Homo sapiens: one gene and its partner. The protein of the gene in region 1 purifies or fractionates together with the protein of each later gene. This does not show direct contact. Each region holds a gene or a part of one and is shown on either strand. Other genes may lie near its edges.

Evidence for each region. Proteins that work in one complex are often made in the same cells at the same time.
Region 2: the proteins of HEATR5B (region 1) and MON2 purify together in Homo sapiens (affinity purification with mass spectrometry, with the first as the bait; one study listed by BioGRID). This does not show direct contact.

The regions. Positions count from the first base shown.
Region 1 is NC_000002.12:37,074,373-37,077,872, forward strand, and holds part of HEATR5B (HEAT repeat-containing protein 5B), read right to left. Parts: intron 2,648-3,500; coding exon 2,539-2,647; intron 1,263-2,538; coding exon 1,113-1,262; intron 1-1,112.
Region 2 is NC_000012.12:62,595,826-62,598,400, forward strand, and holds part of MON2 (protein MON2 homolog), read left to right. Parts: 3' UTR 1-2,575. UniProt on the Homo sapiens protein: Plays a role in regulating membrane trafficking of cargo proteins. Together with ATP9A and DOP1B, regulates SNX3 retromer-mediated endosomal sorting of WLS away from lysosomal degradation.

The DNA of each region.
Region 1 (3,500 bases):
AAAAAAAAACAAAAAATTTTGATTCAAACCTTGCAACATATACAAAAATTAACTCAAAATGGATCACATATCTAAGTATAAAACTATAAAACTTCTAGAAGGAAACACAGGACAAACCCTGGTTTACGAAATGTTTCCTTAGATACAACACCAAAAGCACAATCCATATAAGAAAAATTGATACACTGGATGAAATTCAAAATCTCTTTTCCTTACAAGGCACTGTTTAGAGAATAAAGAGACAGGCCACCCATTGGGAAAAATATTTGTAAATCACATATCTGATAAAGGAATATGTAAAAAACCTATAAAACACTCTCAAAAGTCAATAATTATAAAACAACCCAATAAAACAATGGACAAAAGATTGAGCACATCCTTCTTCGAAGAAGATATGGATGGCAAATAAGCACCTGAAAATATGCTTATCATTAGTCATCACGGAAATGCAAATTAAAGCCACAATGAGATACCATTGAGATATGAGATACAATGACATATGTATCCATTAGAATGGCTTAAATTAAAAAGACTGTCAGTAACAAACAATGGTGATGATATGAAGGAAGAGAAATTCTCATACACTGCTAGTAGAAATGCAGAATGGCACGAGTACTTTGGAAAACAGTTTTGTACTTTTCTGAACGTTAAACTAAATCTGCCCTATGAACCAGCTATTCCATCCCTAGGTTATTTGCGGAAGTGAAATGAAAGCATATGTTTGTGCAAAAACTTATATACAGATGTTCACAGCAGTTTTTTTGTAATAATCAAAACTAGAAGCAACTCAAATGTTTATAACAGGTGAGTGAACAAATCAATGTGACATATCCATACAATGAAATACTACTCAGCAATAAAAAGGAATGAACTATGGATACATATAACAACATAAATGAATTTCAAAACAATTATACTAAGTGAAAGAAGCCAGAATACACATACACAAAAGTACATCTCATGATGTGATACTATTATATATAATTCTAGAAAATGAAACTAATCCATTGGAACACAAAACATAATTTAAAATTTTAAAAGAAAAAAAAATCGTTGACTGTTTAAGAGCAAGAAGGATAAAGAGCAGTATTCTAAATTGGTCGAGTACTAACCTTGGCCACTGCACATCGAACAGCCATTGACCTATCAGTCAAGAGAGACCTGGCATTCTTGTAAATATCACGATGGGAGGAAGCTGCTGCACCACCCAGTCCACTTAGAACTTTCTGTAGACTCATTAAGATTTCACTTCGCCCTTGAGACTAGACATGTATACAAAACAAAACTATTTTGTAAAATAAATTCCATATTTAAACAAGAACACACCAAGACAAAAGTTCTTTGGGTCTAATGGTCTTACCTCCAAATTATAAACGGTAAATAATGAAAAGTACAATAAAATTAAGTATTCTAGAAAGTACCTGGCAAGTAAGAATAGTCAATTAAATAATATCTTTCTAAAAAATTAGGTTTTAAGTAAATATATTCCAATATTTCTATGAATTACTGAAGTACATACAATATAATGAAAACATGAAGAGATTCAAAAGCTTCAATATCATATCTCAATATATAAAATATTTCAGAACGTAAAATATTAAGTAAAAAAGTTGAGAAATAATATATAAATGATCCAAAAAAGGAAGCAGAAAACATCCAACACATTTAAAAAAACATGTCAGAAATACAGCAAACCTTCATCTTCTTGTGACTAACTCAAACTGTTATATCCATATTCTCATAGTGCTTATTGTTATTTCTGATAGTATACTCATCACAGTGTATCACAATGCTTATTCACACTTAGCTCTCTTCCACTAAACTGTAAGTTCTTTGAGGTCAGGACCATCTTTGTATGTTTAATGCCTGACAAATAATAAGTCCTCAATTCTTTTTTAATGAATGAATAGACAAATAGTTCCCAGAAAAGGTATCCAATTCTAATCCAATGACTGGTATCACTGAACAGGGAAATAATTTAGACACAAAACACAAAGGGACAGGAAAAAGGTGATGTGACAAAGGAGACAGAGATGGGAGAGATGCATCTACAAGCCAGGGAAGATCAAAGATTTCCAGCAACCACTAGAAGGTAAGAAGGAAAGGAAACATTCTTCCCTAGATCCTTCAGTGGAAACATGGCCTTGCTGACACTTTATCGCAGACCTCCAGCTTCCAGAACTGTGAGACAATAAATTGTTGTTGTTTTAAGCCACCCAGTCTAAGGTAATTTATTACAGTAACCAGGAAATTAACACATTAGCTATGGCACCAAAAAAAAGAAAAAAAAAAAAGCCAATCCAAAAGTACCATAGGACTAAATAAAAAATAACAAGTAAACCTATTCCTTGTCAAAGAAAAGCATTCTTTCCCTTCCCCCTGATATACATTAAAAGAAGGGACAAGTAATAATTTGTAATTACCTCCTTGCTAAGCAATATGAGACCACAGTGACAGAAAAAGAAACAAACATATTTTAGCTGACATCTAACTCTTGCCACAAGCAAATATTCAAATAATATTGGTTGTAAAACTTACCTCTGCACTTTTCAGAGATTTCAATAGATTATTTACCGTTTCTGGAAATGCGCTGCCCAACATTCTCCCCATTTTTTCATAAAATGCTCCGACACAAGCCACCGCAGCCCTGTAAGAAGTGACAACTTCACTAGTCATTGTCCAGGTTAATGATACAATTATACTTTTCTCATTTTTAGAAATCAATTTGCATTTGTCTAGGACACTTTTGGCTATAATCCTTAATTTCAACTATCAAAAACAATTTATGCTTCATAACTGCAACAAATACTATACTCTATTTACACTGTATTCTTGTTAAATACTATAGTTAAATTGTATTCTTGTTAGGAATACAAAAGAATCTATATATGTACATAATAAATCATACCCATTCTTTGGGAAGAAATCCAAGCTTTTCTTTTTTTTTTTAGGGGGAGACAAAGTCTCACTCTGTCACCCACGCTGGAGTGCAGTGGTGTGGTCCTGGTTCACTGCAACCTCTGCCTCCTGGGTTCAAGCCATTCTCCTGCCTCAGCTTCCTGAGTAGCTGGGATTACAGGTGCATGCCACCATTCCCAGCTCATTTTGTATATTCAGTAGAGATGGGGTTTCACCACGTTAGCCAGGCTGATCTCGAACTCCTGACCTCAGGTGATCCGCCTGCCTCGGCCTCCCAAAGTGTTGGGATTACAGGCGTGAGCCACAGCGCCCGGCCCCTAAGCTTTGCTTCTATGAAGACTTTCCAAATTATGTCAAGCCTCAACAATCCCTCTCTTCTTTCATTATATGTAACACTTAATGTCAATCACTGATTTTGACAAAATTATATCATTTACTGTGTTGTAACTTGACCATTTTATATGTCTCTATCTTGTCCTGCCAGTGGAAATGTAAACTCCAGAAACGGAATATAGCTCACATATTTGCATTGCTCACAGTGTCTACCTCTTAATTTACAAATAATACTATACTATTAGTAA
Region 2 (2,575 bases), on another chromosome or scaffold:
TTTTAATTTTATTCACTTAACAGCTAACATCTTTCTTGTTTCTTGTTTTTTCCATTATATGGTTATCGATTCAACTCTTGCTATATTCCTTAAATTTGTATGTATCATCAGAAGAAAGAGATGAACAATTTAGTGTAGATATTTTATTCTGGAGAATAATATTCAATTAAATTATTTCTACAGCAGGCCAGTAACAACTAGATTATTTGTCCTTTCTCAGTATAATTTTAAAGAGCATTTTGTTTTATTGTCACAATTTGGTACCACTAGTCCCAGGTAACCATTGGGCCAAAGGATCAGTTGAGAAACAGTTAAGGATGAATTAGCATAAGTTATGGAACAGTGTTAGAAAACAACTCAAAAGTATATTCTTTATTAATGAGGTGGTCATTATTACATTTGTGTCAATGAAGGGCAGTGTAGTTATTTTAAAATGACTAATATTTTCTCCCCAAATACAGAATAATTCAGATGGGCAACCAAGTTTTCAAGAGACTGCTGTAGGTGAAGTCTGTCTAGCCAAGGCAGAACACTTACAGGAGTCCCTAACTGTGCCACCCTTGGAATGGGTTAGTGTACAGGCTCAGAATATTGTGGATTACAGTTTTTCAGAGAAAACTACCACAGATGTAGACAAAAATGATCTCTGAAAGCATTGCCAGCAGCCAGGTATGTTCCTTAGATTTCCACTTAGGTTTGGCATTTTGGCAGATAAGCTAATCTTGTATAAAGCATCACATTTTACTATGCTTAGTGTTCCTGGGTTGTATTTATCTACATTATTAGAGGGAATTTTTATTTTAAAAAAATTGTCATTCATGAGAAGAATGGGAGTTCATGCCACATAGTATTTTACCAATTTATATAAAGTGGGAAAAGTCTTTAATACTTCATGATCACTTGAATTAAAGTTTTTGTATCTCTGGAAAGTAGAATAGTGCTTTCATTTGAATGAAAAGTGTTTATAGATTCAGAAAGAGAGATGATATCTTTGTATCTTGATTTATATACAGACCATTTCAGAGGAAGTTAAATGTCTTACAAATCCAATACTTTCTAATGCTCTAACAGTGTTGGCTATTTAAAAGAACATGTGGCAAGTTCTATATGAATATTCTTGGTCATCTCGACTAATTCTGAGGCAATGATGGACAGAGATGCTACTTCTTATTTAACTCTAGGCATGTTGACTTTTCAAAGCGGTTTCCTTATTTCTAAACAGAGATGATGATCAATGAGTTACTAATTCTTTAGAGGAAAAAATGCATAATTTGAGTGTGGAGTTGATTTTAATGACAGGGTAATTCAAGTTGTTTGATAAATTTATTACTATATTGTAAGAGAGATCTTTGACCATTTTTCTTCCTTTTTCTTGGACATCACTTTCTTCCCTCCCCTTCTCTCTTTTATGTTTTTATCCTTGTTAAATTTTATGTTTACGTTACCATCTTTCTTATACTTTCCCCTGATTTTTCTCTTTTAATTCCTCTTTCATTCTCTGCCTCTTCTCTTTCAGCTCTTTCTCTAATTGTGCCTATTCCTTGTTCATAAGAAGTGGAGCTGTTAGTGGTAGAACCACTGCTCATGGTTCTACCACTACAAAGTGGAAAGTAGAAATACTTTGCACTTTGGCCACTGTTGCGTTTTTGCCAAGGTAAAGTTCCCCTGCCATTTTGAAATAGCTGAACAAGTTAAAGTAATATGTTCCAAAAACTGGAAGTGCCATAAAAAACTAAAAATAAAAAAAAATTGTGACTATAACTCCTACTGTCTTTATGAATACACGGGATTCAGCAGCCAAGATGCTCACAAAATGGGATTGCTATAAATATGATGGATTCAGCACCTAAATTTGGAATAATCATGTCTTTTCTGTTATGTGGGTAGAGAGATTATATATCTTTTCTCAAAGTAAAGTATTTAAAACCTGTTTAAATGAGGGTTTTGGCTGGCGTGGTGGCCCACACCTGTAATCCCAGCACTTTGGGAAGCCAAGGTGGGAGTATCACTTGAGGCCAGGAGTTTGAGACTAGCCTAGACAACATAGCAAGATCCTATCTCTAGTTCAAAAAAATATTTTTAATTAGGGTTTTGGTTTTTTATGATTTTGGGGGGTGGGGGAGATATTTGTTTTTTTGAGGCAGACGTTTAAACTTTTAGATTTATCCCATCTTAATATTGATTTATATTGACACTGCCTACTTACAAGAATAATTTGAGGCAGCATATTGCCCATGTATTTCAACTATTTTCATTTTTCTGTTGCAAAGCAGTCTTTGATGGAAGACCCGGAATCTTATAGTTCTCATATCTGAGTCTTTCTGGAGTGTATTTGGTGTCTGTGTGATTGGTTCACCCAGAGGTCACCCAGAGGTCAATTGAAACCTTCCTAATTGTACTATGGTATTGATTCTATCCCCTCAAGTATGAAAAAATTAAATTTTCAGACCATTTTCAGTTGCTGCGAATGTAGTTACACTAAGTTTTATTTTAAACTAAAATTCAATAAACAGTGCAGCCAGGGAAGATCTGCTAAACCATGCCGTTATTTGGAAAATCATTGCAATATATTAAC